7 linked regions of the Homo sapiens genome follow. The protein of the gene in region 2 purifies or fractionates together with the protein of the main gene of each other region. This does not show direct contact. Each region holds a gene or a part of one and is shown on either strand. Other genes may lie near its edges. The genes, in order: AKAP12, OFD1, PLEKHM2, CEP295, MIB1, SUPT5H and MCM10.

What was found.
Region 1: the proteins of OFD1 (region 2) and AKAP12 purify together in Homo sapiens (affinity purification with mass spectrometry; one large-scale study listed by BioGRID and IntAct). This does not show direct contact.
Region 3: the proteins of OFD1 (region 2) and PLEKHM2 purify together in Homo sapiens (affinity purification with mass spectrometry; one large-scale study listed by BioGRID and IntAct). This does not show direct contact.
Region 4: the proteins of OFD1 (region 2) and CEP295 purify together in Homo sapiens (affinity purification with mass spectrometry; one large-scale study listed by BioGRID and IntAct). This does not show direct contact.
Region 5: the proteins of OFD1 (region 2) and MIB1 purify together in Homo sapiens (affinity purification with mass spectrometry; one large-scale study listed by BioGRID and IntAct). This does not show direct contact.
Region 6: the proteins of OFD1 (region 2) and SUPT5H purify together in Homo sapiens (affinity purification with mass spectrometry; one large-scale study listed by BioGRID and IntAct). This does not show direct contact.
Region 7: the proteins of OFD1 (region 2) and MCM10 purify together in Homo sapiens (affinity purification with mass spectrometry, with the first as the bait; one large-scale study listed by BioGRID). This does not show direct contact.

Annotation. Positions count from the first base shown.
Region 1 is NC_000006.12:151,298,514-151,302,559, reverse strand, and holds part of AKAP12 (A-kinase anchor protein 12), read right to left. Parts: intron 3,719-4,046; exon of another isoform or gene 3,627-3,718; intron 1-3,626. UniProt on the Homo sapiens protein: Anchoring protein that mediates the subcellular compartmentation of protein kinase A (PKA) and protein kinase C (PKC).
Region 2 is NC_000023.11:13,740,889-13,744,934, reverse strand, and holds part of OFD1 (centriole and centriolar satellite protein OFD1), read right to left. Parts: intron 521-4,046; coding exon 416-520; intron 1-415. UniProt on the Homo sapiens protein: Component of the centrioles controlling mother and daughter centrioles length. Recruits to the centriole IFT88 and centriole distal appendage-specific proteins including CEP164. Involved in the biogenesis of the cilium, a centriole-associated function.
Region 3 is NC_000001.11:15,682,781-15,687,330, reverse strand, and holds the start of PLEKHM2 (pleckstrin homology domain-containing family M member 2), read right to left. Parts: upstream 3,012-4,550; 5' UTR 2,773-3,011; coding exon 2,713-2,772; intron 1-2,712. UniProt on the Homo sapiens protein: Plays a role in lysosomes movement and localization at the cell periphery acting as an effector of ARL8B.
Region 4 is NC_000011.10:93,692,565-93,696,610, forward strand, and holds part of CEP295 (centrosomal protein of 295 kDa), read left to right. Parts: intron 1-2,917; exon of another isoform or gene 2,918-2,932; coding exon 2,933-3,070; coding exon of another isoform or gene 3,071-3,109; intron 3,110-3,755; coding exon 3,756-3,853; intron 3,854-4,046. UniProt on the Homo sapiens protein: Centriole-enriched microtubule-binding protein involved in centriole biogenesis.
Region 5 is NC_000018.10:21,817,157-21,821,202, reverse strand, and holds part of MIB1 (E3 ubiquitin-protein ligase MIB1), read right to left. Parts: intron 3,580-4,046; exon of another isoform or gene 3,375-3,579; intron 1,709-3,374; coding exon 1,557-1,708; intron 1-1,556. UniProt on the Homo sapiens protein: E3 ubiquitin-protein ligase that mediates ubiquitination of Delta receptors, which act as ligands of Notch proteins.
Region 6 is NC_000019.10:39,465,612-39,469,657, reverse strand, and holds part of SUPT5H (transcription elongation factor SPT5), read right to left. Parts: intron 3,179-4,046; coding exon 3,089-3,178; intron 2,984-3,088; coding exon 2,913-2,983; intron 1,437-2,912; exon of another isoform or gene 1,365-1,436; intron 903-1,364; coding exon 797-902; intron 580-796; coding exon 486-579; intron 397-485; coding exon 260-396; intron 1-259. UniProt on the Homo sapiens protein: Component of the DRB sensitivity-inducing factor complex (DSIF complex), which regulates mRNA processing and transcription elongation by RNA polymerase II.
Region 7 is NC_000010.11:13,167,831-13,171,876, reverse strand, and holds part of MCM10 (protein MCM10 homolog), read right to left. Parts: intron 956-4,046; coding exon 614-955; intron 1-613. UniProt on the Homo sapiens protein: Acts as a replication initiation factor that brings together the MCM2-7 helicase and the DNA polymerase alpha/primase complex in order to initiate DNA replication. Additionally, plays a role in preventing DNA damage during replication.

The sequences.
Region 1 (4,046 bases), on a different chromosome or scaffold from region 2:
AATCCAAGGTATCTTTAGTTGGAGCCAAACTGAGTCTCTTTAAACATGAAGACTATAGCACACAGGCACAAATTTCCGTCTACTCTTTTAGAAATGTTACTGAGCCGGGCACTGTGACGTGCGCTGTAGTCCCAGCACTTAGGAGACTGAGGCAGGAGGATTGCTTGAGCCCAAAAGTTTGAGGCCAGCCTGGACAACATAGAGAGACCCTCGTCTCCAAATAAAAACATCATTTAAAAAAGAGATGTTACACCAGGCGCAGTGGCTCATGCCTTTAATCCCAGCACTTTGGGAGGCCGAGGCAGGCAGATCATGAGGGCAGGAGATCGAGACCATCCTGGCTAACATGGTGAAACCCCGTCTCTACTAAAAATGCAAAAAATTAGCCAAGTGTGGTGGTGTGCGCCTATAATCCCAGCTACTAGGGAAGCTGAGGCAGGAGAATCACTTGAACCTGGGAGGCGGAGGTTGCAGCGAGCTGAGATCACGCACTCCAGCCTGGGCAACAGAGGGAGACTCCGTCTCTTAAAAAAAAAAAAAGAAAAAAAAAAGAGATGTTACACACACATAGCAAAGTACATTAGATGATAAAAAGAAGGACCCTTAAAAACTGAGGTCAAATGCTACACATCCTTACATCCTAAGTATGATAATGAATACATTATGAGATACTAATTTTCAGTAACCACAGGGTAACTGTCCCTACTTGAGAAAGGCCGTAGATACATTATTAACTTCGGTAGAAAACGATTTATGACAGTGACGTTACTGAACCTGAGTTTTGAGTCTATTTTACTATGTGAATAGCTTGCGTCCCGCCAGGGTACCCAAGCTTTGACCTCAAGGGTGATGTCTCAGGTGAGCTTTCAGAGCCTATGAGGCACCAACATCCGCACAAAATGGGACTTCATTCCTAGTCAGATTGTCACATTCAGACATGTCCACACTTTTGCAAATCCCACGTGTTGTTAAAGATGGATAATTCCCTTTATTTCACTCCAAATCAAAAGTGTTTTTGTTTTTTCTTCCATCCCCAAACCGTCTAAATAAGTCATACCGTTGTTAAAAATTCACGGACTTCTGAGAGTTATCAATAAGTTAAAGTCACCTCAAATAGAGGAAATCAAACCTACATTCATTTAAGTCTTTTCTGTGTTTTCTACGTGTGTATATATACAGGCACAAGCATTCACTTAAAAAATAATGGGGAACACGTGTTATTTTATGACCTGATGGTTTCATACATTGTGGGTACATTTCTTTATTAATAAACACGCACCTTGCTTAACTTCAATCAGTCTCTCCTGTCTGCAACTCAAATGGCCACAGAAGACAGGATTTACACACAGCTCTGCCCAGAGAGACCCTGAAAGATGCAGACACAACATAGTGGCACATGGGACAGGAGGCGGTGGAACCAGATGGGATTCATTGGAGCCAGATGGGATTCGAGGACCACCCATTTCAGGGAGGAAAGTAATACTGGGACTTAACTGTTACCAAACAAGAAAGAAGGAGGAAATGTATATTTCACTTTTTCCACTCCGAAGCTTCCTCGCATAGCTTTATCCCTCCACCCTGAACTTAGTTTTATAAATAGTTATTTCTTTTGAGATGAGAACTAGACTTGAAAGACACGCTCCTTACACTTAAACATGGTAAGCACCAGAAAACCTATTTTCCCACTGGATTTGTGCTTCAAAAAGCACAAATGCCTCCTTTGAACAAATCAAAACCCTAAATGTTTTCAAGCTTATATCCTTTGAGTGGGTCAGCCAGAGTTTATTCCCATGAAGTATTACCACATTACAACTAAACAAGCTGTTAAAAAAAAAAAAGACCCTAAAAACCTCAAATGTTTCCAGCAACAGTGTTTTCCTCTCATTTCTGTAAGAACAACAACCAAGAATGTCCAAGTGGTAGCCAAGGCACCACAGAAAAACTAGGAGACTTCTCCATCCACTTCCTTCTCCACAGGAGTCCACAACGTGCTAGGGACCTCCTTTGCAGAGTAAGAAACAGGAGTACCAGGCTGTTTAATGAAGTTGTGAAATGATGAGCCCTTGACAGCTGTCAGGATGCCAGGGGCAGAGGAGGTAAGCCAACCAAAGCAACCCTTTTCACTGCAGAAGTGATACTCCCAGATCTACATCCTCATTGGACGACCGGGTGCAAGTGGCCCAGCACTCCTGCAGTTCACACAGTAGACGAGGCTCCAAAGGGGCAATTCGTCCCACCCCGGGCAGTATGACCAAGAAGCAAACCTGTAAGTGGCCTTCGTGGGAAGGAACCAGAAGCCAATATAACCAGGACACACCCACAAATGATCAAATCATCAGACTTAAAGATTATCTGGAAGGAATTTTAAATCCCACGACAAAACTTGTAAAGAAACCTCTTCATTGTGTTTTCTCCTTCATTCTAATAGAAAGTGTTTTGAAAGTAAATCTTTAAAAATGTCAAACAAAAAAAATAAAAACCAGAGTACAAATCAGTAAACAATATCCCTGGAAGGCAATTTGGAAATAGGGATAGAATTTTAAATACGCAAACCCATTAGCTACACCATGCCATTCTAATAGATATGGCATTACATATTTATGAGGTGCAACACATAATAACTTATAATAGGGTTGGGCGTGGTGCCTCATGCCTATAATTCCAGCACTTTGGGAGGCTGAGGCAGGAGGATGGCTTTAAGCCAGGAGTTTGAGACCAGCCTGGGCAACAAACTGAAACCCAGTCTCTACAAAGGAAAAATAAATAAGTAATAAATACTTCATAATAGCAAAAAAAAAAAAAACCCTTAAATGTCTATCAGTAGAGGGGAGTAGTTAAATTATGAAATGTTCATGCAATAGACAACATCAAAAGCTATGAGGTAGATTTAGACACACTCATGTGTGAAGATGTCCCTGGCTTAAGGGGGAAAAGAAGCAAGTTGCTGAGAATGATTCTTTTATGTGTTTAAAACCAAACTAAACAAAAATAACCCACTGACAAAGAGGGAGAGGAAGAGGAAAAGGGAGAGAGAAAAGGAGTCAATGTTTGTGTAAGCATTTTTTTTAAAGTCTGGAACAATATGTACCAAATCTTTAATAATGGTTACCTCTATGGCATTGTTGTTGTTTGGTTTTATCCTCTTAGAGGGAAATTGGGAGAACAGACACGGTTTCCTTTTTACTCACTTTATCACTGTAGAAGTGAAAATACATTGAACCCTAAAACTCATAGATTCTTAGGCTTCAAGCATGTTAATAACCTTGCTTGCCAGGGTTCATAAATCTTTTAAGATCATCTAGGCCAACAGGCCACACTGCTGGAGCTTTAACTCCTCTGTTTATATCATCTCCAAATGTAAATAACATATTAATGTCCTCAGCTAAGCCATTCATCAAAAACATTGAACGGGACGGAGCCAAGCATATCACAGTTCTACAGCAGGCCACTACAGGCTCCTGACAGAGAACACATGTATCCTATGCATTATGTACCCATTTCACAAGTGTGTTTCATATACATTTGCTTCCGCCTTAAGGAAGTTACTTTCACGACCTTGAGCACATTTCTTACCTCCCTCATATCTTCCCCATTCTCTGTAAAATGGAGTTAAGAATTCATTTTTAGGCTGGTCCGATGGTAGTGGGTTATCAGAAATTAACATCAGTGTTACTAAAGTCGGTATACAACCCTACACTGCTAAACTTGACTGGCTTTTAAAAAGAAAAAAATTTTTTCATTTTTCTCTCTTGTTTTTTTTTTTTGAGATGGAGTCTCACTCTGTTGCCCAGGCTGCAGCATAGTGGTGCCATCTCGGCTCACTGCAACCTCCGCCTCCTGGGTTCAAGTGATTCTCCTGCCTCAGCCTCCCAAGTAGTTGGGATCACAGTCAAGTGCCACCACGCCTGGCTAATTTTTTTGTATTTTTAGTAGAGACGGGGTTTCACCATGTTGGTCAGGTTGGTCTCGAACTCCTGACCTTAAGTGATCCACCCGCATTGGCTTCCCAAAGTGTTGGGATTACAGGTGTGAGCCACCTCGCCTGG
Region 2 (4,046 bases):
TCTGAGGACCTCGGTTTCCTCAACTATAAAATGAAGTGATAAGTCACTGACTTCTCTAGTACTTTGCAAAGCAAGTAGTTTATAATCTTCTAACTGGGTGGCTGTAAAGTTAGACAAGACACGAGGAAGAACCTCCCAGTTAAGAGAAGTCAAACTCAACAAACAAGGAAGAATATGGGCCTTTGAATCCCTGCATGATTTGGCCAGTGTAGCCCTGGCATTCATGAGGCTAGGGAATGACACTGGAGAGCACTTCCTGGTCCCCCAAGATGATTCCAGAAATGAATTCCCTTGTTGCCTGCCGGCTGCATCCCTCCAGTTCAAGGAGCAATCACACAATATGGTAAATCAGATAATTTCCTTCATTCAAAATGAAAACAGCAGAACTGAAATTAAGAAAGAAGGCTATAATTACCCAGAGAATCTCTGTTAAATGTCGAACTTGTCTGAGTTTCCATATTACAACTCTCTTTAGCTTGATGATATTCTGCCAATTCTTTTAAAAAATGCATAAGAAAACCTAAAAAACATATGCATACAGTTTTGTTTCAGAACTTTCAACCACTGCTCAGTCACTGTTTTTACAATCTTAGTTTTAGGACATTATCATTTTTTACATTATATATCTTTCCTTTTTTTTAGAGACAAAAGTCTTGCTCTGTCACCCAGGCTGGAGTGCAGTGGTGTAATCATGGCTCACTGCGGCCTCGACCTCCTGGGCTCAAGCAATCCTCCTACATCAGTCTCCCAAGTAGCTGGGACTAGAGGTGCACACCACCACCCACCACGCCCAGCTAATTTTACTTTTTGTATAAACAGGGTCTTGCTATGTTGCCCAGGCTAGTCTCAAACTCATGGCCTCAAGCAATCCTCCTGCCTGGGCCTCCCAAAGTGCTGGGATCACAAGCATGAGCCACTGTGCCCAGTCATATCTTTTAATAAATCTGAGAAAAGGCCTTCCCAAGCATGATACAGAACCTGGAAGGAATAAGGAGAAATATTTATCAATCTAACTACATAAAAACTGAAAACTTACATATGGCATAAAATAAAAAAATAACACACTGGGAAAAATAGTTGCAATAATATGGAGGCATAACCAAGACTAAAGTGATGACATTTTCATAACATCAAAGAACTCTTACAAATCAGTTTAAAAAAAAAAAATCAGAAAAATGGGGAAAAACATGGGTAGTTTGCAGAAAAAACTACATTGTCAAAGATGAACACAATTTTTAGATGCTGAATAAACATGAACAAAATCATAAATGCAAATTAATACAACAGAGAAACCATTATTTTCCCTATAACACTGCTAAGATTAAAACTTGTATAATGCTAAGTGTTGGCAAGGGAGTGGATATATAGCTATACTCATTCACTTGGAAGAGAAATTTGTCAGTGCTTATATATATTCGAAATGCATGTGCCCTTTAATCTAGTCATTCCACTTCTATGAATTTACACAGGTATACTTTCACAAGGGCACAAAGGGTGCACACTGCACATAGGTTACCTGTAATGGCAAAAAGCAAACAATAAAACAACCAGATCTCCATCAATAGGGGGTTAAATACATTATTTAAAAATAATTAGTCTATACTGCTACAGAAAGATACATTGGTGGATTAAAAAAAGCAAATTGCATACAGTATCTACGATATAATCCCAATTGATTGTGTTTTAATTACAAATACATAGTTTTAACCTCAAACAATTCTAGAAGATAAACAAGAAACTGTTAATTCTAGTTATCAGTGGAGTGAAACTGTTAATTCTAGTTATCAGTGGAGCGTGAGATTAGAGAACATGGGCAGAAACTGCTACTTTGCTTTCACTTTATATCCTTCTGAATAGTTTGAAACTGTTTTAAACCACAAGCATAAATTACTTAAGAAATGTTTAGTTTCTTGGAACTAAAAACAGTAGTTAGCTCAGCACCTTTTCCCCCACCCCCACTCCCTTCAGGAAGGGGATTAGATTTTGTCACAGTCTGCATACCATCCTGGGATCACCTGACCTAAATTTGCAAACATTAAGGTTCACTCTTGATGACGTAAAGCTCTATGGGTTTCGACACTGGGTCTTTCATTCTCTTAACAGCGTCTTTTGGCAGGGTACAGTGGCTCACGCTTGTCATCCCAGCACTCTGGGAGGCTGAGGCAGGCGATCACCTGAGGTCAGGGGATCGAGACCAGCCTGATCAACATGGTGAACCCCATCTCTATTGAAAACACAAAAAAATTAGCCAGGCGTGGTGGCAGGCGCCTGTAGTTCCAGCTACTCAGGAGGCTGAGACAGGAGAATCACTTGAACCCAGGAGGCAGAGGCTGCAGTGAGCCGAGGTCACGCCACTGCACTCCAGCCTGGGTGGCAGAGTGAAACTCCGTCTCAAAAACAAAACAAAAAGAACAGTGTCTTTCACAGAGATGTTTTTAATTTTAATAAAGTCTAACTGATCTACTTTTTTCTTTCATGTATCTTGCTCTTGGTGTTACATCTCATCACGAAACCCAAGATCACAGACTTTCTACTGTTCTCATCTGGAAGTTTTATAGTTTTGCATTTTACATTTAGGTCTATGGTTCATTTTGAGTTAGTTTTTGTGTAAGGTATAATAAATAAGATCTGTGTCTAGGTTCATTTTTGCGCATATGAATATCCAACTGTTACAGCACCACTTGTTGAAAAGACTATCTTTCCTCTATTGAATTGCCTTTGCACCTTTGTTAAAAAAAAAATCAATTGACTATATTTGTGTGGATGTATTTCTGGACTTCCTAATTCTGTCCCCATTGATGTATATGTCTTATTCTTTTGCCAATTGCAGATAAGAATTTTTACTTCCAAAAAGCAAAGGGCCGATGTCCAAATTTTCTTCCCTCATCCAAATTTTGTGCACATCATTTTCTGGATATTGTCAGGCCTCTGAGCCGAAGCTCAGCCATTGTAACCCCCGTAACCTGCATATATACGTCCAGATGGCCTGCAGGAGCCAGCTAAAAAACCACAGAAGTGAAACAGCTCCTGCCTTAACTGACTGACCAACCTTACGACATTCCACCATTATGACTTGTTCTGCCCTGCCCCAACTGATCAATCGACCTTGTGACATTCTTCTTCTGGACAATGAGTCCCAAGATCTCTCCACCATGCACCTTGGGACCCCCTCCCCTGCTAACAATAAATAACCACCTTTAACTGTAACTTTCCACTGCCTACTCAAGCCCTATAAAGCTGCCCCTCTCCTATCTCCCTTCACTGACTCTCTTTTCGGACTCAACCCACTTGCACCCAAGTGAATAAACAGCCTTGTTCCTCACACAAAGCCTGTTTGGTGGTCTCTTCACACAGACACGCATAACAGATATCATTATCTCTGAAAGGAAAATTAGCAGTGGGAAGAATGGGTGACTAGAATCTAGGAGGAAAAGTACCAAGGCCATTCAACAGCTTAGCACCCCCTGAGCATAGATATGGTAGGATAAGACCATAGGTCTGAGTCAGGGGACAGACAACGGTTAAGTACACAATATCTTCCTACATGTTTTCTGTTACTTAATTAGAAGACACCAATTTTTAAAAAAATTTTATCTTACCAGGAGCTATTTTGTTAGCTAAGAGTTCTATCCAAATTTTGGCACTAGGATGCCTGACCTATCTGCTACTCATAGTTTTTCTGGCTTCCAGAAATTTTACTGGGATGCTAGGTGAAGCTGGTAAGGGCTGTCGGCCAGATGTCTTTCTGAACCAGATGCATTTAAAGAGACTGTGTAAAAACTATTTTTTTTTTTTTGAGACGGAGTCTTGCTCTGTCGCTAGGCTGGAGCGCAGTGGCGTGATCTTGGCTCACTGTAACCTCTGCCTCCTGGGTTCAAGCGATTCCCCTGCCTCAGCCTCCCAAATAGCTGGGACTACAGGTGCACGCCACCAGGCCTGGCTAACTTTTTTTTGTATTTTAGTAGAGACGGGGTTTCACCATGTTGGCCAGGATGGTCTTGCTCTCCCGACCTCGTGATCCGCCCGCCTCAGCCTCCCAAAGTGCT
Region 3 (4,550 bases), on a different chromosome or scaffold from region 2:
ATAGTGGCGGGCGCCTGTAACCTGTAGTCCCAGCTACTCGGGAGGCTGAGGCAGGAGAATGGCGTGAACCTGAGAGACGGAGCTTGCAGCGAGCTGAGATCACGCCACTGCACTCCAGCCTGGGTGACAGAGCAAGACTCCATCTCAAAAAAAACAAAAAACAAAAAACAAACAAACAAAATCTTCATAACACAGCCTGACCAATATGGGCGAAATCCCATCTCTACAAAAAATACAAAAAGTAGTCGGGCACGGTGGCTCATGCCTGTAATCCCAGCACTTCGGGGGGCCAAGGCAGGCAGATCACTTGAGGTCAGGAGTTCAAGACCAGCCTGGCCAACATGGGGAAACCCCATCTCCACTAAAAATACAAAAATTAGACGCTGGGCGCCGTGGCTCACGCCTGTAATCCCAGCACTTTGGGAGGCCGAAGCGGGCAGATCACAAGGTGAGGAGATCGAGACCATCCCTGGTTAACATGGTGAAACCCCGTCTCTACTAAAAATACAAAAAAATTAGCCGGGCGTGGTGGCCGGCGCTTATAGTCCCAGCTACTTGGGAGGCTGAGGCAGGAGAATGGTGTGAACCCATGAGGCGGAGCTTGCACTGAGCGGAGATCAGGCCACTGCATTCTAACCTGGGCGACAGAGCGAGACTCCGTCTCAAAAAAAAAAAAAAAAAATTTAGCCGGGTGTGGTGGCGCACACCTGTAATCCCAGCTACTCGAGAGGCCGAGGCAGAAGAATCGCTTGAACCTGGGAGGTGGAGGTTGTAGTGAGCCGAGATCACACCACTGCCCTCCAGCCCAGGCAACAGAGCAAGACTCTGTCTCAAAAACAAACAACAACAACAACAACAACAAAAAAACACTCCACAACATCCCTAATTTTATCCCTGCTTTACAGATGAAGAAACTGGGCATGGAGAGGTTAATAAGCCTGACCAAGGTTACAGGGTTATTAATTTGGCAGGGCGGGGATTCAATCAGGCAGCTGGACTCCAGAATCCATGCTCCTAACAATGATGCTGCCCATGGCTTTGGTTGTGATACACCCAGGGATGGGTTTGCAGTTTCTAGTGTGACATTTTCTGGGGTGCATTCCAGCTCAATAAGTGTCCTTGTCCAAACACCTACAATTATATGCACCTCAACAAACACACCTAACTCATAAGTGACAGCCTGACTTACAAAGTGAATCTCTGCCTTCAAAAGACTCATGCTTATACATGTGACAGCGTGCCCCATGTCTACTGCCTCTCCATCACAGACTTTCTCCATTCATTTGTTTGAAATCCAAAGACAAACGCCGGGCCTACCTAAAGCCACAATCAGCCCAGATTAGATTAGAAAGGTCACCTGTGTTCCTTTCTCTTCCATTAGGAAAGATGTACTGCTTCTCAACAAAGTATTTGCTCATCCTGCCCTCCTTGAGTAAGCAAAAACCATACCCCATTACATTAGCAAAGCTCAGTAAAACTACGTAAAACTCTTGTTGGATCTCTGCAATGTTACTTTAGCTGTGCTTTTAGAGGAATGTTTTCAGTAAGGGCAATTCGAGAATCTATTTTCTTTTTAAGTCACATTTATCTTTATGAAAGGTAAAATAGCTTGCCTGTGTTGCTTTTGAGGAATCTCAGTGGGAAAACAGACAATTATTTAAATATGATGGTTGATCTAATTAATTCTATCCATTTTGCTTCTTCAAGTAAAATAAGCTGCTGAGTCCCTCACCCAAGCCATTTTCTTTCTCTTTTTTCTTTCTTTCTTTCTTTTTTTTTTTTTTTTTTTCAGTTTCTGAGACTATCTGGTGAGCCAGGAATTCAAATTACACAAACACACACACAGAGAGGGAGAGAGAGAGAAAAATCCATTCTGATTTGGCCATTTAGGTTTTCAGTGAATATGGATTCTTTTAAATTTATTATTATTATTTTTATATCCAGCCCAAAAACGTCAGAATATGGATTCTACCTTCTAGCACGGACCCTTTTGCGGATATGCCAACTTCATCACAAATACATGCCCTTGACAGGTATGTACTCATTTCTACCTGGAATTGGGACAGTGATGTTTACTGCGGCAAGCCCCACAGCAAGGTGTCTGTGGTGTCACCCGGTTCCCCGGATCAGCATCCAAAATGCAATCCCCATGTACTTCAGGTTCTTATAATCAAAGCCCCTAGTGAACCTCTTCAAAGCTACCATCCTTGAGCAAGATTATTCAGGGGACTTCCCAGGAGCAGAGGCAATGTCGCCGGGACCCAGGCCATGGGAAAGTGAAGTTGCTTATCACTGGCCTCCACCCTGACTGCCAGACCCTGGGCGACGCCAGCCTGGCGGGGGGACCCGGGGATGCAGCGGATTCCACAGGAGGCTGCATGGGGTTCCTTCAGGAGCTCCCGGGGGCGCCGCTGCCCCAGTGGGGGACCGGAGGGTCGCTGACCCCTCTCCGGGAGGGCAGGGCCCCGGGCCAGGTTTGGGGAAGCTCCGAGGATGCTGACCTCAACTTTGTTCTTTAAAAATAGCTCCGAGGCCGCGGCGCTCACGTGAGCGGCGCCGCTTCCCCTCTACCGGCCCGGGGCTCCCGGCCGCTCGTCGCCCCCCGGGTCGCGGAGGGGAAGGGCGGGGGGCCCCGGCCCGGGAGAGCGCCGCCGGAGGGCGTGGGGGGCGCGGCGAGGAAGGGGCCCCGGCCGGGAGGGAGGCCGCGCTCACCTTCTTCACCGACAGCGAGATGTTCTCCAGGATCCGGTCCTTCACCTCCCCCGGCTCCATGGCGCTGCCACCGTCGCCGCCACCGCCACCGCCACCGCCGCCGCCGCCCCGCCGCCGCTTCCCGCGCCGGGGGCCGGGGGCCGCCGCCAACCGCTGCCGCCGGCCGTACGGGGGCTCCGTCGTGCCGGCCGCGGGGCCCGGCGCCCGCCGCCCGGCCCTCGCCTCGCCTGGGCCCTCGCTCCACCGCGGCCCGGAGGCTCCGGAGCGCGGCCGGCGGGGAAGGAGGCCGCGGGCTGTGCGCCGCGGCGGCGGCGGCGGCAGGAACTGATGTCAGGCGGGGCGGCGCCAGGGCCCGCCTGCGCCTGGGGACTCCGGGGACCCGGAGACCCGCACAGACCCTTGGCCGCGGCCCTCCCCAGAGACCCCGAGACCCGCCCCCAGCCCTCCTCAAGTCACAGACTCTCCCCGGCACCCCAGAGACACCCTCAGACCCCAGGGACGCCAGAGACCTCGACCCCGCCTGCCGGGGACCTCGGGGCTCCTCAGAGACCCTCCCCAAGCCCTCCTCAGCCCACAGATTCCTTCAGGGACCCCAGAGACACCCTCAGACCCCAGGGACTCCGGACACCCCGACCCCGCCTGCCAGAGACCCCCACAGACCCTGGGACCCCGGCCCTCCTCGGAGACCCTCCCCCAGGCCTCGTCAGCCCACAGATTCCCTCAGGGACCCCAGAGACACCCTCAGACCCCAGGAACTCCGGAGACCCCGACCCCGCCTGCCCGGGACACCGGCCCTCCTCAGAGACCCTGGAGACCCTCCCCCTCAGCCCTCAGGCCATAGACTCCCCCCTGGGACCTCAGAGACACCCTCAGACTCCAGGGACTCCGGAGACCCCAACCCCACCTGCTGGGGACCCCCACAGACCCTGGGCCCCCAGCCCTCCTCAGAGACCCCCAAAGACCCCGAGGCACTGGCCCTCCCCAGAGACCCTGAGACCCTCCCCACAGCCCTCCTCAGCCCACAGGATCCCCCCACAAAACCCCAGAGACTCCCACAGGCCCCAAGGACTCTGGAGACTCCGACCCCACAGGCCAGAGACCCCCACAGACCCTGAGACCCCGGCCCTCCTCAGAGACTCGAGACACCCACAGACCCTGGGCCCCCTCCCGCCGGCCCTCTTTAGTCCACAGACCCCTCCTTGGAGACCCCAGTGCACCCCACTAACTCTGGCCAGGGACCCCAAGACCCTCTTAGCCTGCAAGCCCCACTTATCTTCCTCCCCTTCCTTAGCCCAGCCACCCCCTCAATGTGCAGACCCAGGCCCCCTGGCTTTCGCAGCCTGGAGGACCCAGCACCCCCACCGGGTCAGCCTAGACTCCAGTCCCCAGCCCTAGACCCTCCCTGGGCCCCCTGGCCCTCCACAGCCTCCCCTCCTCAGTGCCTCACCCTCAAGGCCCAGTCCTACATTTGAGGTCCCTGGTGTTCCTCCCCACCCCCAAAACACACCCTCCTCACCTTCAGCCCCAATGCCCCATTCCCACTCCTTATCCTTATCCCTCTTCTTCAGCCCCACGTATCCCAAGGGCCTCAACTCCCTCAGCCCCTGAAACCCACCGTAACAACTCTCTTCCCACACACCCTCCTCAAATCCACCATCTCATAAAGCCCCTGCACTTAGAGGTGTCAGTCTCCTACCTGGCTCTCTTCCCTCCTTAAGTTCCCAAATAAATATATCCTGACACATAGATTAGTCCCTCCTTTTTATTCTCAGACACCCCAGTTCTCAACTCTGGTTCCCTGGTCTTCCCTCTTCTCTGCTCAGGCCACCCCATCCCTG
Region 4 (4,046 bases), on a different chromosome or scaffold from region 2:
CTCTGACCTCAGCTTCCTGAGTAGCTAGGACTACAGGTATAGGCCACCATGCCCAGCTAATTTTTTTTTTTTCCTAGTAGAGATGACGTCTTGCTATGTTGCCCAAGCTAAACTTTAACTTCTTTAGGCTGGGCATAGTGACTCATGCCTGAAATCCCAGCACTTTGGGAGGCTGAGGTGGGCAGATCACTTGAGCCCAGGAGTTTGAGACCCACCTGGCCAACCTGGTGAAACCCTGTCTCTACTAAAAATACAAAAATCAGCTGGGTGTGGTGACACAAATCTGTAGTCCCACCTACCCAGGATGCTAAGGTGGGAGGATTGCTTGAACCCAGGAGGCGGAGGCTGCAATGAGTCAAGATCACACCACTGCACTCCAGCCTGGATGACAGAGTGAGACTCTATCTCAAAAAAAAAAAAAAAAAACAAAAGGCCGGGCCCGGTGGCTCACGCCTGTAATCCCAGCACTTTGGGAGGCTGAGGCGGGTGGATCACGAGGTCAGGAGATAGAGACCATCCTGGCTAACACGGTGAAACCCCGTCTCTACTAAAAATACAAAAAATTAGCTGGGCATGGTGGCGGGCGCCTGTAGTCCCAGCTACTCAGGAGGCTGAGGCAGGAGAATGGTGTGAACCCGGGAGACAGAGCTTGCAGTGAGCCGAGATTGCGCCACTGCACTCCAGCCTGGGCGACAGAGCCAGACTCTGTCTCAAAAAAAAAAAATCCTCCTTAACTTATGACTTTGGTCTCATCTACTTTTAATAAAATATTTTTTTAACCCAACTTACCTCGAAGGAGGCTAATTATTACTAAGCAGGCCAGTTTATAGTCCTAGTTAGTTTTTTCAAAAATACAGCTGGGGAATAATTCCGTGAGCCAGTATTTCTTCTCAGATAAATACTTTCTCAGGCCAGGTGCAGTGGCTCATATCTGTCATCCCAGTACTTTGGGAGGCTTAGGCGGGCGGATCACCTGAGGTCAGGAGTTTGAGACCAGCCTGGCCAACATGGTGAAATCCCATCTCTACTAAAAATACAAAAAGTATCTGGGCGTGGTGGTACGCACCCACAATTCCAGCTACTCAGAAGGCTGAGACAGGAGAATCGCTTGAACCCAAGAGGTGGAGGTTGCAGTCAGCCAAGATTGTGCCACTGCATTCGCCTGGGCGACAAGAGCGAAACTATCTCAAAAAAAAAGAAAAAAAGAAAAAAAGAAAAATTTCTCATCAATAGTCTAGAACAGTATTGTTCAGTAGCACTTTCTGTGATGATGGAAATGTTTTATATCTATGTACAGTATGTACCTGTTAGCCACATGGGCTGTTGAATAAAATAGTGTAACTGAGGAACTAAATTTTAAGTTTTATTTAATTTTAATTAAATTTAAGTAGTCACATAAAGCTAGTAACCACTCTATGGACAGTACAGTTGTAGATGTACTACAGAACTGTAAACAGTCTAAATTCAGGGGCTCCTATGAGTAAGGGAAAGTAAGGAAGAGGAACTGTCTGGGAACTCAGTTGAAGCCACTGTTGCCTAACTAGGAATAGGTAAAGAATCAGGTCAAAACATTTTTTATTTTGAAAACAAGATCATTGTTCATTATCTCTAGTAGAAGTGCTGCTCTTTATATAAGAAAACAACGTGCATTCCTTTTTTTACTTATTCAGTAAATACTTGTCTGTTTATCAGGGACTGTAGAGTAGTCCCTGCTTATCCACAGTGTATATGTTCCAGGACCCCTAGTGGATGCTTAATAGTACCAAACTGTGGATAATATTGATTCCTGTATATACTATGGGTGAATTTATTTTTCCTTCTTTATAATTCCACTGATAGAAGATTTACTTTTACCATAGATCTTAGCAATCAGCGTATAATTTTTTTTCTTTCCTTATTGAGAACTTTCAGCTTTTCACTAAAAGGAAGCACTTTACAGCCTCTCTTTGACATATCAAAATTGCCAGCATTACTACTCTTATGCTGTGGAGCCACTGTGAAGTAAAATAAGGGTTATTTGAACACAAGCACTGTGATGCTGCAACAGGCAAGTTTTTGTAACCAAGATGGCTACTAAGTAACAAATGGCCTGGTCCAGTTTACAGCATGGATATGCTGGACAAAGAGATTATTGATGTTTTCAGCAGTACAGAGTAGGACAGTGCAAGATTTCATCACACTACTTAGAATAGTGCATAATTTAAAACTTATGAATTATTTCTGGAATTTTCTATTTAAGATTTTCTGGCTGCTGTTGACCCTGAGTAATTAAACCACAAAAGCTAAATTGCAGATAGGAGGGGACTAAGGTGCTGGATTTGGCAGGCTAGTTTTGTCCTCATGAAACTCATAGTTACTCAAACATGTTCATATTACTTAGAGTGTGAGTGTGCTTGTATAGTATTAGAGTTTATGTGTTATCTTTCTGCCATTTTCTTCTGTTCCATGCCTGACAAAAAAGACACAGAATGTTGTTCATTGCTTCTAGATAACTATCCCTCTTAATGAGCATGGTTAAGAAGTCAAAGTATTTTAGGAGGCCTTGATATTTAATTTCTTTAGTCATTATTTATACTATTAAATGTGTGAACATAGAATTTGGCTGTACATCATTTGCTACTTCAAGGTAGTTCTTCAGTGGTGATCAGGGTTTCACTGTGCTCTCAGAAAGTAGAAATAGTTAATGTATTTATTCTTTCTTTTCCTTCTGCCTTTTTTTACTTCTATCCCTTTTTCTCTTTTTCCCATTTCCCATCTTTTACTCCCATCCTCAGTCTGTCAGTGATAACAACAGAGATAAAGCATCAACACTTACTTCTTTGAAAATTGGTACCCTTGGTGAAGAAACCTAATTTCTTTTAAATGGAACGTGTGTTATCTTTGCCTTTGTATGAGTTTGTTGTTAATAGATCAATAGTATTTTGTTACCTAGATAATGGAAATAGAAGAGCAGAAGCAAAAGCAATTGGAATTACTTGAACAAATTGAACAGCAGAAATTAAGATTAGAAACTGACTGCTTCAGGGCTCAGCTGGAAGAAGAAAAAAGAAAAAAAACTCAACCGACTGGGGTAGGATGCAGAAAATCTCATCACTACATAAATCATTTGGTAAGGGGGGCAAGAAAATATGAGCACTTGTAGCGTTTAGAAAAGTAAAATGGATGGCTGGGCGCGGTGGCTCATGCCTGTAATCTCAGCACTTTGGGTGGCCGAGACAGGCAGATCACTTCAGGTCAGGAGTTCGAGACCAGCCTGGCCAATGTGGTGAAACCCCATCTCTACTAAAAATACAAAAATTAGCTGGGCATGGTGGCACGTGCCTGTAATCCCAGCTACTCCAGAGGTTGAGGCAGGAGAATCGCTTGAACCTGGGAGGTGGAGGTTGCAGAGTGAGATTCCATCTCAAAAAAATAATAATAATAAAAGTAAAATGCCTTTGTAATTCTTATTTGGTCTTTTTTTGATATAATGTATGTATATATGAATAAATTTGCATCAGTTACGGCTTTCATCTTTCAGTTTCTATAGGATACTAATAGATACGACCATGGTTTGTAGGTAATGCGTATGTTGAGCTTTTGGACCTGCACTGAAGGAGAATGACAGATTAGTTCATTTCTTACTAATGGAAATGCCAGTCATTTTATAAAAAATAAAGCTGTATGGAAGTTTACAATTATAGAACTGTATGTAAAAATACTTCAATACTTACTTCTAAATTTGCTTTTTAATTAGTAACTTTGTCTTTTATTAGGTTGGCATTGCTCCAGCATCATGCCCTGTAATTTCTGATGAAGATAGTCATAGGCAGATGATTCGTAACTATCAACATCAGCTTTTACAACAAAACAGGTATTAGCTAGGGTATAATTTATATGTGATCGTATGTGGCTACATTTTTAGGATTTATTGTTTCATTTATATGAGGATCTAATTTGGATTTCCTTAGAATTATGGCATTTAGAACTGCCATTCTTAAAGGACAATGTGAGTGTAATTTCTTTTCACCATGAGTATTGCCAACCCTAGATTGCTGTTTGTTAAA
Region 5 (4,046 bases), on a different chromosome or scaffold from region 2:
TAAATCAAGAAAAAGACTGAAATCAAAGAAAAAAATTAGAAGAATAGTATAATAGTCTAGGTAAATGTGGTGAGTACTTAATTGGGTCAGCAACAGTGGGAACAGAATGGAATGGGTTGGAAGGATTGGTAGAATGAGTAAAATTTTAAAACTAGTTGGAAGCTAAGAATTGGTGAGAGAGCAAAGATAACTCTAAGCAATGAAGCAGCAAGAGGAATGAGGTATTGACACATTCACTGCCCATGTGTTTTGGTCTTGCTTCACAGACAGACCATAATACAGAAAAGGTGATGTAAAGTGGTTTAACAGTTATGATTCTAAAGTCACCTAGACCTTGCTCAAGTTACAGCTGCTTCAGTAATCAGCTACGTGTTCTTGAATAATTAAATTCATCTCTATAAGCCTCATATTCTTCACGTGTAAAATGAGGATATTAACACCTGCCCCAAAAAGCTGTTGAAAGGATTAAGTGAGATGATGCATGTGAAGCACTTTGCAGAGGCTGGCATGTGGAAAGTGCTATCATAATCTTCTGTTTGAAGGGCAGGGAAATATAATACTACTGTCTTCTTCACAATGCCAAAATCTGAAGTGTTCAAATATTTGCAATTTGGAAAAAAAATCAAGATGTGATCTAAAATATGATCATTCATTTTGTCCTACAATATATACCCACTGTTACAGTTACCAATAAGCAGTAGCAATAAAATCCTTTTGTTTCCTGTGGTCACCCTCTAGTGGTGATCCTAAGAAGCTAAAGGAAACATGATATAAAAATACAATAAGGAACCAAAGAATAAGTGTTCAGAATAGATAAAATTATCAAAATAAAAATCAAAGTGAAGATTTTTCTTAGTCCAGGTATACAGGTTTGACTCAAACATAAACAGAAGACATCCAATGCAGAATTTCCTAAAATGCTTAGGGTAAAGTTGTTCCAAAAAGTGAGTTAATGGAAATCTCTAAATTAAGCAAAGCTAAGCATTTTCCCATTCTGTGGGACACCGCAGATCCTTCATAAAGAATGTGATTCTCCAAAAGGAGTCTTTCTCAAATGTCAACCAGCAAATACTTTTTTCAGTAGAATACTATTGCTGTAACAATGGATGAGGGGATAGCTATACTAGAAGTTTATATAACTAATTACATTATTAATAAGGAATTAGGTAACTTAGTATTTATTTAGTCTTAAGTTTTAAAAAATAATTATCGTGCAAATGGCAACATGAAATTAGAGGACACCCAGATAATTATTTTGAAGAAACATAAATCTCAAAATAAAATGCATTTTAATTAAATCTTTAGAAAGAAACTAGTATTCCTGATATTTTACAACCACATTTAATATAAACTTAAATAATCATTTCATAATATTTGTATTAGATTAACAACCAAATAATCATCATATAAAACTAAAGGCATAATATTCACAAAACTTTAAAATGATTTAAAATACTAAAATAGCCAAAATTATTTCTTCATCAGTATCAGAAAAAGAGAATCAACAGTAGGAAAATATTTTTGAATTGCACCTAAAATAGTAAGGGGTGACATACCTGGGATTTCCCCTTAGTGCAGCATGATGCAGAGCATTAAATCCATTATTGTTTGTGATGGTAACATCTGCTCCAGCTTCCAAAAGAACTGCTAGGATATCATCACGTTTCTTACTTATTGCATCATGAAGAGGGGTATCACCTTCAGAATCCTTTAAGTTTAAAGAAATTTTCATTAGTTCTTCAATTAATTATCCCATCTAATAGTAATACTTACACCAAATGCTAAGCAAACAGAAGCAGAGACCACATCCAACAAATACCAATAAAAGAGCACTTTCTGTGATAACTACAAAAATATAGGCAAAGGCTGGGCATGCTGGCTCATGTCTGTAACCCTAGCACTTTGGGAGGCTGAGGCGGGAGGATCAGCAGAGGCCAGGAGTTCAACACCAACCTGGGCAACATATAGAGACCTTGTCCCTACAAAAAATTTTAAAAATTAGCCGGGCACGGCGGTGTGCACCTATAGTCCTAGGTACTCAGGAGGCTGAGGCAGAAGAATGGCTTGAGCCCAGGAGTTCAAGGCTCCAGTGAGCTATGATCATGCCACTGCACTCCAGCCAGGGTGACAGAGCGAGACTCTATCTCCAAAAATATAAAAAACAAAAATACAGGCAAGAAACACTGGCCACATTATAGTAAGGAAAGACATACTCAAATCTAGTTGGAAAACAAAATAAGCATGCTGGAATTTTTTTTTCTTTTTTTTGAGACCAAGTTTCGCTCTTTCACTCAGGCTGGAGTACAATAGCGCGATCTCAGCTCACTGCAACCTCCACTTTCCGGTTTCAAGCGATTCTCCTGCCTCAGCCTCCCAAGTAACTGGGATTACAGGCACCCACCACCATGCCCAGCTAATTTTTGTATTTTTAGTAGAGACGGGGTTTCACCACGTTGGCCAGGCTGGTCTCAGACTCCTGACCTCGTGATCTGCCCACCTCAGCCTCCCACAGTGCTGGGATTACAGGCGTGAGCCACCTTGCCCGGCAAAGTTCTTTTTTTGTAGAGATGGGGGTCTCAGTATGTTGCCCATGCTGGTCTTGAACTCCTGTGCTCAAGTGATCCTCCCACATGAGCCTCTCAAGGTGTTGGGATTACAGGCATAAGCCACCACTCCTGGCACATGCTGAAGCTTTACAAAGCAAAAAGAAAAGAAAAGAAGTAGCCTCAAATATAACTAATGACAAAAACCAGTGAAGTGATAAAGCTGCCCCCCAAATTTTATAAGTTTAAAATGGCCTTAATTGTCATACCCTGAAATTCCATACCAAACCTACACCATAACAATGAATTGAAAGTCGGTGGCTTTCAAACTTGGCTGCTCATTAGAACCTGCTGGGGAGATCTTTTAAAATCTGTTGTACAGAGGAAAAAAAAGAGAAAAAAAAATCTGATGTCCAGGCTGTTCACCATACTAAATCTCTAGAGGTGAGAGTGAGGCATGAGTAATTTTTCAAAGCTCCACAGATGAACATCTTGTGCAGTCACAGGTGAGAAACATTAATCTAAGCGTTTTCAAAGGGCAGCAAAGTGGCTAGTTAGCCAAAGGTAAAACAATTGTAAATTAAAATTTAGCAATCTCAGTCTACCATTTTTTCAAGCTGACTACTTTTTACATTAATCAATTGACTTAGCAGTAAGTTTTTATTCATTAGCAGTCATGTACAGACATGAATAATTTAAATTTCATTCATTTCATAGTTGAACAGATGCTATTCTCAGTAAAGTCATATACAACCTGGCCTACAGCATATACTACAGTTGCCAAATTCAGTTTGCCACTTGTTTTTTGTTTGTTTTATTCTTTTTTACTAGACATATTTCCTGCATGGTTTGTCTCCCCAGTCACTGTCCACAGGATTCTGAGAAGCTACAGGAATATGAAAGTGCAAACACCAGACCCAGCTTCATCTCCAACACTGAGGAAAGGGACTGTACATCATGGGGCAGAGCCCTATGCTCCCCTAAGCCATGTGGACAAAGCCTAGAAAAAATGATATCCCAGGATATTACACATTGGAGCCACCTGTTTTTGTAAATTAAGTTTTATTGGAACACAGCCACACCCATTCATTTATGTATTATCTATGGCTGCTTTCATTCTGCAATGAGAGTTAGATAGTTGTGGCAAAAGCCAATAAGCCACTATTATCTGTGCCCAATATAGAAAATGTTTGCTAATCCCAGGAATATATTCATCCACCTACATAAAGAATTCCTGCTAGGCATGGTGGCTCACACCGGTAATCCCAGGACTTTGGGAGGTGGGAGCAGGAAGATTGCTTGAGACCAGAAGTTTGAGACCAACCTGGGCATTTCTACAAAAAATTAGCCAGGCATGGCAGCTCACACCTGTAGTCCCAGCTACTCGGGAGGCTGAGGTGGGCCCTGAAGGTTGAGACTGCAATGAGCCATGATCACGCCACTGAATTCCAGCCTGGGCAACAGAGCAAGACCCTGCCTCAAAAAAAAAAAAAAAAAAAAAAA
Region 6 (4,046 bases), on a different chromosome or scaffold from region 2:
TACCCAGATATCTTGCTTTTCAGAAACAAAAGATAGACCAAGTCACTCTCCAGAGACAGACACCACCAGGCAGGCCTGCTGCCCACCGACCCTGAGCTGCACTCAGACAGAGCCTCTCAGGCACCTGAGAATGCTAGAAGGGCCTCAACTTACCCTCCTGGAAACCAGGTGTCACCAGGCACACCACCGCCTCGACAGCCACATACAGTCAGATGTGCCTGAACACTCCAACCCCTGCCCGAGAACACCGGGCACCCACCTTGAGGTCCTCATGCTTGGGCATGATGGTGATCTTGTTGCCATCCACGCTGAGGATCTTGCCCTGCAGGTTGATGAGCTCACCCTCACAGACCTCCACGTTGTCCCCAGGTTGGAAGTTGTGCTCCCGCTCCTTCCCTGCAGGGGCAGTCGTAGGGCTGACTCGGGGGTTGCCACCATGGGCCGCCCCTGCTCCTTGGCCCAGGTTATAGAGGGGGATCAAATACCTGTGCTCTCAGTCACCACCTCCAGGTCAATGCCCTCTGGCTGGTCCTCAAACTTTTCCAGCTCAGAGAGTGTTGGCTTCACACCCTCCGTGATCTAAGCCCCCAGCGGTGAGGGGAAGAGAAGGAAATGGACCGAGGTCAGTGCAACAGCCCAGCTGAGTGGGCTGAGTGGGTCCTAGGGGAATAATTCTCCTAGGGAACACTCCTAACTTGAGGAGTGGGACAGAACCAGATAACCCACAGCCCAGGGCATCACCTGCAGGAGAACACTCACACCACCCCCATTACCAACACCCCTCTGGGACCCTCACCACAGCAGACATGGCGAAGCTCTTGAACAGAAAGCCCTTCCGGCTGTAACGGTTCCCCTCAAAGATGAGGAAGTCACCATCAGAGGCAACATCACCCCCCAGGGACCTGGAATTTGATGGGGGAGAGAAGATTAGAAGGGAGAGTCAAGAAGAAAATCTTGCTGTACCTCAGTCTTCTCAGCTGGCAACAGAAGGAGAGGACCACAGGCAGACTGACCCATCCCATCCCAGCACACACCCTCTTGGCAGCAGTGACTTCTCACAAACCCCAAAGGCCCGCCTCCCACCTCCCTGCACTCCTCCACCCATTCCCTGATTTATCTTTGAGCACCGATCACCATCTGACAATCTAGTGTTTGACCTGTCCCCCTAACTAGCATGTCAGCTCCAGAAGGTCAGGGATGTAACATTCACTAAATTTCACCAAGAATAGTGCCCAGTACACAGAAAGTATGCAGTAAACATTAGCTGAACAAAATAACAGTTTCAGACAATGATACCAGTGAATATTCGCAGAGCGCTCAGCCTGGCCTGCACACTCATGACCTCACAGGCTCTTCCCCAAATCTGTGGCATCAGTAACTGCTCATCATTTCCAGGTGAGGGAATGCAGGCTCAGGAAGGTCACATCACATGCCCAAGGGTGCCAAGCCACAGTCTTGACAGGATTCAAAAGCAGGCAGGTGGGACTCCCAAGCCTGCAGCTCCCGGCCCCAAATGTGGAGTGGCGGCCGCTTAGTGCCTGTTCCGAGTCTCCGGGGTGGGGAAGGAGCCTCCTTCATGGAGGAGCAGGTCAAGTTCCTCCTGCGCTCATGCAATCGCCTTCTCCCATGGTGAATCTGGGAGAGGGGCCAGCATGCTCTGCTGGGCATGCTGGGGTACTTGGTCAGCTGGCTTGCTGGGGGGTAAGGGAGCACTAGGGTTTGTTCTTTGCAAAGAGAGGTTCAGGTGAGTCGAAACCAGTGGTATAAATGGGTCCGAACTCAGGCAGGTGAAGTATTAGCAAGGCCCTTGGGTGCAGACTCAAAGGTGCATTCCACAGCTCTTCCTTTATCTGAAGGAAAACCTGACTGGCTGAATCACACACAATTAGTTCTAGAACAGGACCAGAGGGAAGAGTGTCACTGGCACCTCTCGTTTCTCCATGTCCTCCTCTCCTGCCCTCCCTGCCGGAGCCCCCAGTTGGCCCTGGGATGTTGAAATTCCTGGGCTGCTCCAATTCTCTACCCAGCTAGGGAGTCTGGGGGGCATCCTGAGGGAAAGGCACTCCATACCCCCCCATCTCAAGTGGGCATAAGCAGATCAGGAAAGGAGACTTTCTAAAGCCTGACATAGTCCATGAATCCCATTTCAATATATCACACCATGGATCACACTTACTACGTGCCAAGGGCATTCTGAGTACATATGCATACTAATTTATTTAATTCTCACTATAATCTATAATCTGAGGAAGCAGAGGTTGTTTTCTTTTTTTTTGAGACGGAGTCTCGCTCTGTCACCCAGGCTGGAGTGCAGTGGCACGATCTCGGCTCACTGCAATTTCTGCCTCGTGGGTTTAAGCGATTCTCCTGCCTCAGCCTCCCAAGTAGCTTGGATTACAGGAGCTGACCACAACCCTTGGCTAATTTTTGTATTTTTAGTAGAGACAAGGTTTCACCATGTTGGCCAGGCTGGTCTTGAACTCCTGACCTCAAGTGATCCGCCCGCCTCGGCCTCCCAAAGCGCTGGGATTATAGGTGTGAGCCATCACGCCCAGCCTCATCAATCTTTTTAAATATTTTTTTAACTTTTTTCTTTTTATTATTATTATTATTTTAAAAGATGGGATCTCATTATGTTGCCCAGGCTGGTCTCGAACTCCTTGCCTCAAGCAAGCCTCCTGCCTTAGCCTTCCAAAGTGCTCCCTCCCGCTGCGCCCAGCCTCATCAATCTTTATAGCAGAAGAAACTGAGGCACAGGGATGTGAAGTGACTTGCCTGAGGCTATACTGCCAAGCTAACCAATTCACAGGCTAAACCTGTGGCGGGGCCACCCCTGGGGAGGAACCTGCAAAAGGCACATTCTACACACCGGCCCTGGGGACCCAGCCCAGCCAGTCCCCAAGGACACGCACCTGATCTTCTCAGCATCAAACAGCCTCTGTGGAGGCCGCTTAAACTTCTTCCTTTTGGCAAACCAGTCTTTCTATGGAGGAAAGGGGCATGGGTGGGAAGGGTGAGGGAGGGGGCTTGGCCACCAGTGGGATCGAGCACACTCCCTCCCCCCCAGGCCACAGATTCCCCTGAGTACCAAGCTCATGCGGGCCTTGATGCGATCGTAGTCGATGCGTGGGATCATCTTCAGGGAGATGGTGTTCTGGCTGGGCTCCACGTAGTCCACCTGAGCAGGGCGAGCAGAAGGTCAGCAGGGCCCCACTCTCCTCCCTGACCCCAGACACAAGAAGGGTCAGGAGATGCTAGGAAGGAGAAGGGACGCAGGATGGTGGGGAAGAAACCAGGCTGCTGACCACTCCCAAAAGTCCCACGCTAGCTTGTCTGTCCCCTCAACTCTGGCACTGAGTAGCCACTGCCTGCTTGGTATCTCCACCTGGATGTCTAAAGGTCCCTCAAATCCAGGACGACCGCAGCCAAACCGCTGATTCCCCCAAACCTGCCGCCTCCCACTCCATTCTTCCCTCTGCTCAGGCACACAACCTGGGAGCCACTCTTGACTCCTTTGTTTCTCTTACACCCACACCCGACCCGTTGGCAAATTCCATCAGCTCTGCCTTCAAAATACCTGACCTCTTCCCCTCCTCCACTGCAGTCTCAGCATTCCAAATCCAAAAACCCAAAATGCTCAAAAATAGGAAACCCTGTGAGCACCAACATGATGCTCGAAGGAAATGCTCACTCTTGGATTTTCAGATTTGGGATGCTCAACCGGTAAGTATAATGCAAATATTCCAAAAGCTGAAAAAATCTGAAATCTGAAAAACACCTGTGGTCTCAAGAATTCAGGTTAGAGACACTCAACGTGTATTAGGGTCTTGGTCCTATCCCACCAGCACTGCCATCTGGGTGGGATGTGCTACAGCAGCAGCCTCCTCCCTGGTCTCCACGCTCTTGCCCATGGCCCCCTCCAGGCTATTCCCGGGTTTCTCAGCCTTGGCACTATTGACTTTTTGGGCCAGGTAATTTTTTGTTGTGGGCAGCCATCCTGTGCATTGGAGGATGTGTGTGTCTAGCATTTCTGGCTTTAACCTGCT
Region 7 (4,046 bases), on a different chromosome or scaffold from region 2:
AGGAAGATCACTTGAGCCTGGGAGGTGGAGGCTACAGTGAGCCAAGATTGCACCACTGTACTCCAGCCTGGGTGACACAGCAAGAATCTGTCTCGGAAAAAAAAAAAAATTATATTTACTTCATAAATTGGATATCATAACTAATATAATAAATGCTGGCTTCTGTATTAGAAGAAACAGCTAACCATTGAATTTTACTATAGCTTAAACATGTATGAGATGCCAGGAATGAGAAAAGAACATGTGTCAAAGCTTCTGTTCAGGAATGCTCTGCTCAAATAGATATGTGGCAGCTTTGCAACCTTGTCTCTGGCTCCACATCCACATACATCCCAAAGTGCTACTATTCCATAAGAAATATGAAAAGTTTCAGAGCCATTCCGTACAGGATCAAGTGCAGCTGGCTGACACTGATAGAGTCTATAGTTTGTGCTGAAATGCTGGCCCAAACATTTCATCTACCAACTCATATAATTTTCTTTCTTTTTTTCTTTTTTTACAAAGTCATTTATCTCTACCCTTGAATCAGCAGCTATTTTGATGACAACTATCAGATTGGTGGTCTTCATCCAACTTATCCGAAAGAAATAAGGAAGGCAAGTAGTTAGGGCACCTTGCAACTCTTCATTCGTTTTCTCTCGCCTGGGGGCAGGAGCAGGGAGGACCCTATTTTCAGTTGACTGTGATGCGGGAACTTCTTCTTCATCTGTTAAGTCCTCCATATCTCCAAAGAGAGTGGCCAGATTTTCCTTTTCGTCTCTTGTCTCTCCTGTTTCTCCATCATCAGCCTCTTCTGTATAAGATTCACCGTCGCCGTCGGCATCAAAGAGCTCATCAAATGCGTCGGGCTCGCCATTTTCCCGCGTCAAGAAGTTATTTTCTTCTGAATTACAATCCAAGGCTGACTCATTTTCTTCCAGCAGTGCGGTCAGCAGAGACAGATTGTCTTCCTCCTCTAGGGGAAAAGAAGAGAAAGGACAGAGAATAAGCACGGCTAATTCCAAACATTCAACTTTAGGCAATTTAAATGACCCCATGGGGGTAAGAGAAACTACCTAATGGGTACAATGCTCATTACCTGGGTGATGGGTTCAACCATACTCCAAACCTCAGCATCACACTATATATACATCTCTGTAACAAGCCTGAATCTAAAATGAAAGCTGAAACTAAAAAAACAAACAAACAAACAAACAAAAAAAACAAAAACCTACAGATGCACCATTTTGCCTGGTCTTTGTTCTCCTTGTCTCCATCTTTCTTGTCCCCAGGTGCTTCTTAGGGGACACTGGGCTAAGAAGGAGCCAATACTGCTTAGTGAGTAGAGTGGGCCAGCCACGGGGCCAAATGTCCTCAAGCATTCTACTCCAATCAATGAGACAGCTTCCCGCACACCGACTTCCATGAAATTCAACCAACAAGGGAATAATTTTAAAACACCAAACATAGATTTAGGCTTTAGATGTATATAATTCCTGACCTTCAAATTATTTGAGATTTAAAAAAAAAAAGATACAAACTATATAAAAAATACTAAGATCCCATCACCCAGAATTAGCCATCATTAACATTTTGTTGTTTGCTTCTTGCCTTTAACATTAAATAACACCTTCCAGATGAAGTCTGTCATGCCAAATCTTATCCCAACTCCTGACCACTGCCCCCACTTCCCATTGTAATCACTTTCATAATTTTGAGGCATCATTCCAGTCCATTCTTATGCTTTTACATAAATATATAGGCAGTCATAGTCAATCTATATTAGATGGTTTTAAAAATATTTACATAAATATTCCACACTGCATTACTCTGCATTCCAGGTTCATTCAACATTGCTTGTAAGATTAACCCAAATCAAAACATATAGTTCTAGCCAGGCGTGGTGGCTCACGCCTGTAATCCCAGCACTTGGGGAGGCCAAGGCAGGAGGATCACCTGACATCAGGAGCTCAAGACCAGCCTGGCCAAGAAAGTGAAACCCCGTCTCTACTAATAATACAAAAATTAGCTGGGCGTGGTGGCCCGTGCCTGTAATCCCAGCTATTCAGGAGGCTGAGGCAGAAGAATTGATGGAACCTGGGAGGTGGAGGTTGCAGTGAGCCGAGATCGCACCACTGCACTCCAGCCTGGGTGACAGGGCGAGACTCCATCTCAAAAACAAACAAAAAACCCCATATAGTTCTAGTTTCTTTCTTTTCGTTGCTATATTGTATCCTATAATAAGACTGTATCACACCTCATTAATCCATTTTCCAATAAAGGACAATATGGGCTATTTCTAATTTTTCCCCACTACTAAATACGCTGTAATCGTGTATCCGTCTTCTCGCACATGTGTTTCTTGGGAATATCTATCAGAAATGGAATTGCTGGATTGCTGGGTATCCACGTTTTCCAATTTTGCTAGATGCTGCCAAATTGTTCTCAAAGTGGATGCACTCTTGAAATGGCATAGTTCGTCTGGGGTAATACCTGAGGTTCGTTGTCTCATGCAAAGGAAATCAAGGATGCTGACACACAAGGAGTGAGGTTAAGTGCAGAGATTTAATAGGCAAAAGAAAGAGAAGAGCTCTCGGCAGCAGAGAGGTCCCAGAGAAATGGGTTGCCGCGTCCATGGCAAAATGCATGGGGTTTCATAGACGAGCTTGAGGACGCAATGTCTGATTTACACAGGACATAAAAGATTGGCTGGACTAGGTATGCCATTTGCATAGGGTGGAAAACCTGGCTGCCCCACCCTAATCTTTTATTATGCAGGTGGTTCTCTACCTGGCCAGCGCCATATTGTCTGTTTCTTTACTGTACACGTGGTTGACACAGAAAAAGGGCCGCCATGTTGAACACGCCTGGCCCCCAGGGAGCCTTTTCCTATTGGCACAGCTGCAGGTATTCATCCGTGCAAATTACTAGCTTGCTTTTCTATGTCCGCTTGATTTTTCTGGCTGGCCTTGTTAGAAATTACTTGGGGGCTGCTTTTTGCTAAAAGGGAAATTCTGCTGAGGACTCTGTTGCCCTTACTATCTCCCTAAATAATTGCTATCATCTGTATCACTCTCACTAGAGCTGTACACAAGGGCCACTTCTCCCCACCACCTCATCAATATCTGATGTGTCACTTAAATATTTTTTTGTCAATCTGATGGACGATTTAAAAAGGCATCTCACTGTTTTGATTTGCATTTCTTGGATTACTGGTGAGGTTAAGAATTGTTTGTTTATTTGCCAATCGGATTTCTTCTTTCTTGATTTATCTATTTTCTTTGCTCTTTTTTCCCCCCTATTTGGGCACTATTTGTTTATAAAATCAGAGGTATTCAATGGAAAAATATTAAGGATATCTGACCTACTCTCCTTGTCTGAAATTCAGGGGCTAGAGTATGAGAGGGTGAGGGGCTTGTTCAGGATCACATGGAGAAACAGATCAGTTCAGGAGCTGGGTTAATAAGGAATCTCTAGATCAGCAAACCAATATCCTTTCCACCACTCTACACTCCCTTACCAGAAGGAAAAAGCCAGTAGCCAAACTTCAGGCCTAGAATCTGATGATGGGGCCTAATGCTCAGTCAGAGGTTGTATAAGGATTAGCTTGAGTTGCTTAGTCCACAAAGACTCCAAGGCTGCACAGTGCAAGAGAGAAGAGGCCAGGCAGCCCCCTGTGCTCTGAGAATGTCACATGCCTGCAAGGAAGCAAAGAGGCCTCCACCATCTCTTGTTCCCGTCTGCCAAAGAGGGCACACCCCGGGAAGAGGCTCTGGCTCACACCACTGGGGGCCACAGGTGGAAAATGCTGCCTGGGGACCCCATACTATTCACTTTGAACCCTTCACAAGAGAACGAGGGCTAATCCCATGGTGCCTCACAACCCCGTTTACCTCAGTCACCACCAAAAATCATGTCTTCTCTGTATTACGCTGACTCAATCTCCCAGCCTCTTTGTTCTCAAACCCCTGGGATGTGAAATCTACTATCAGCACGTTTCTCGGATCCCCAGTGGCTCTTACAACAGAAATCTGGCTACCCCTGGAAGCCTCTTGAATGGAAAGCAT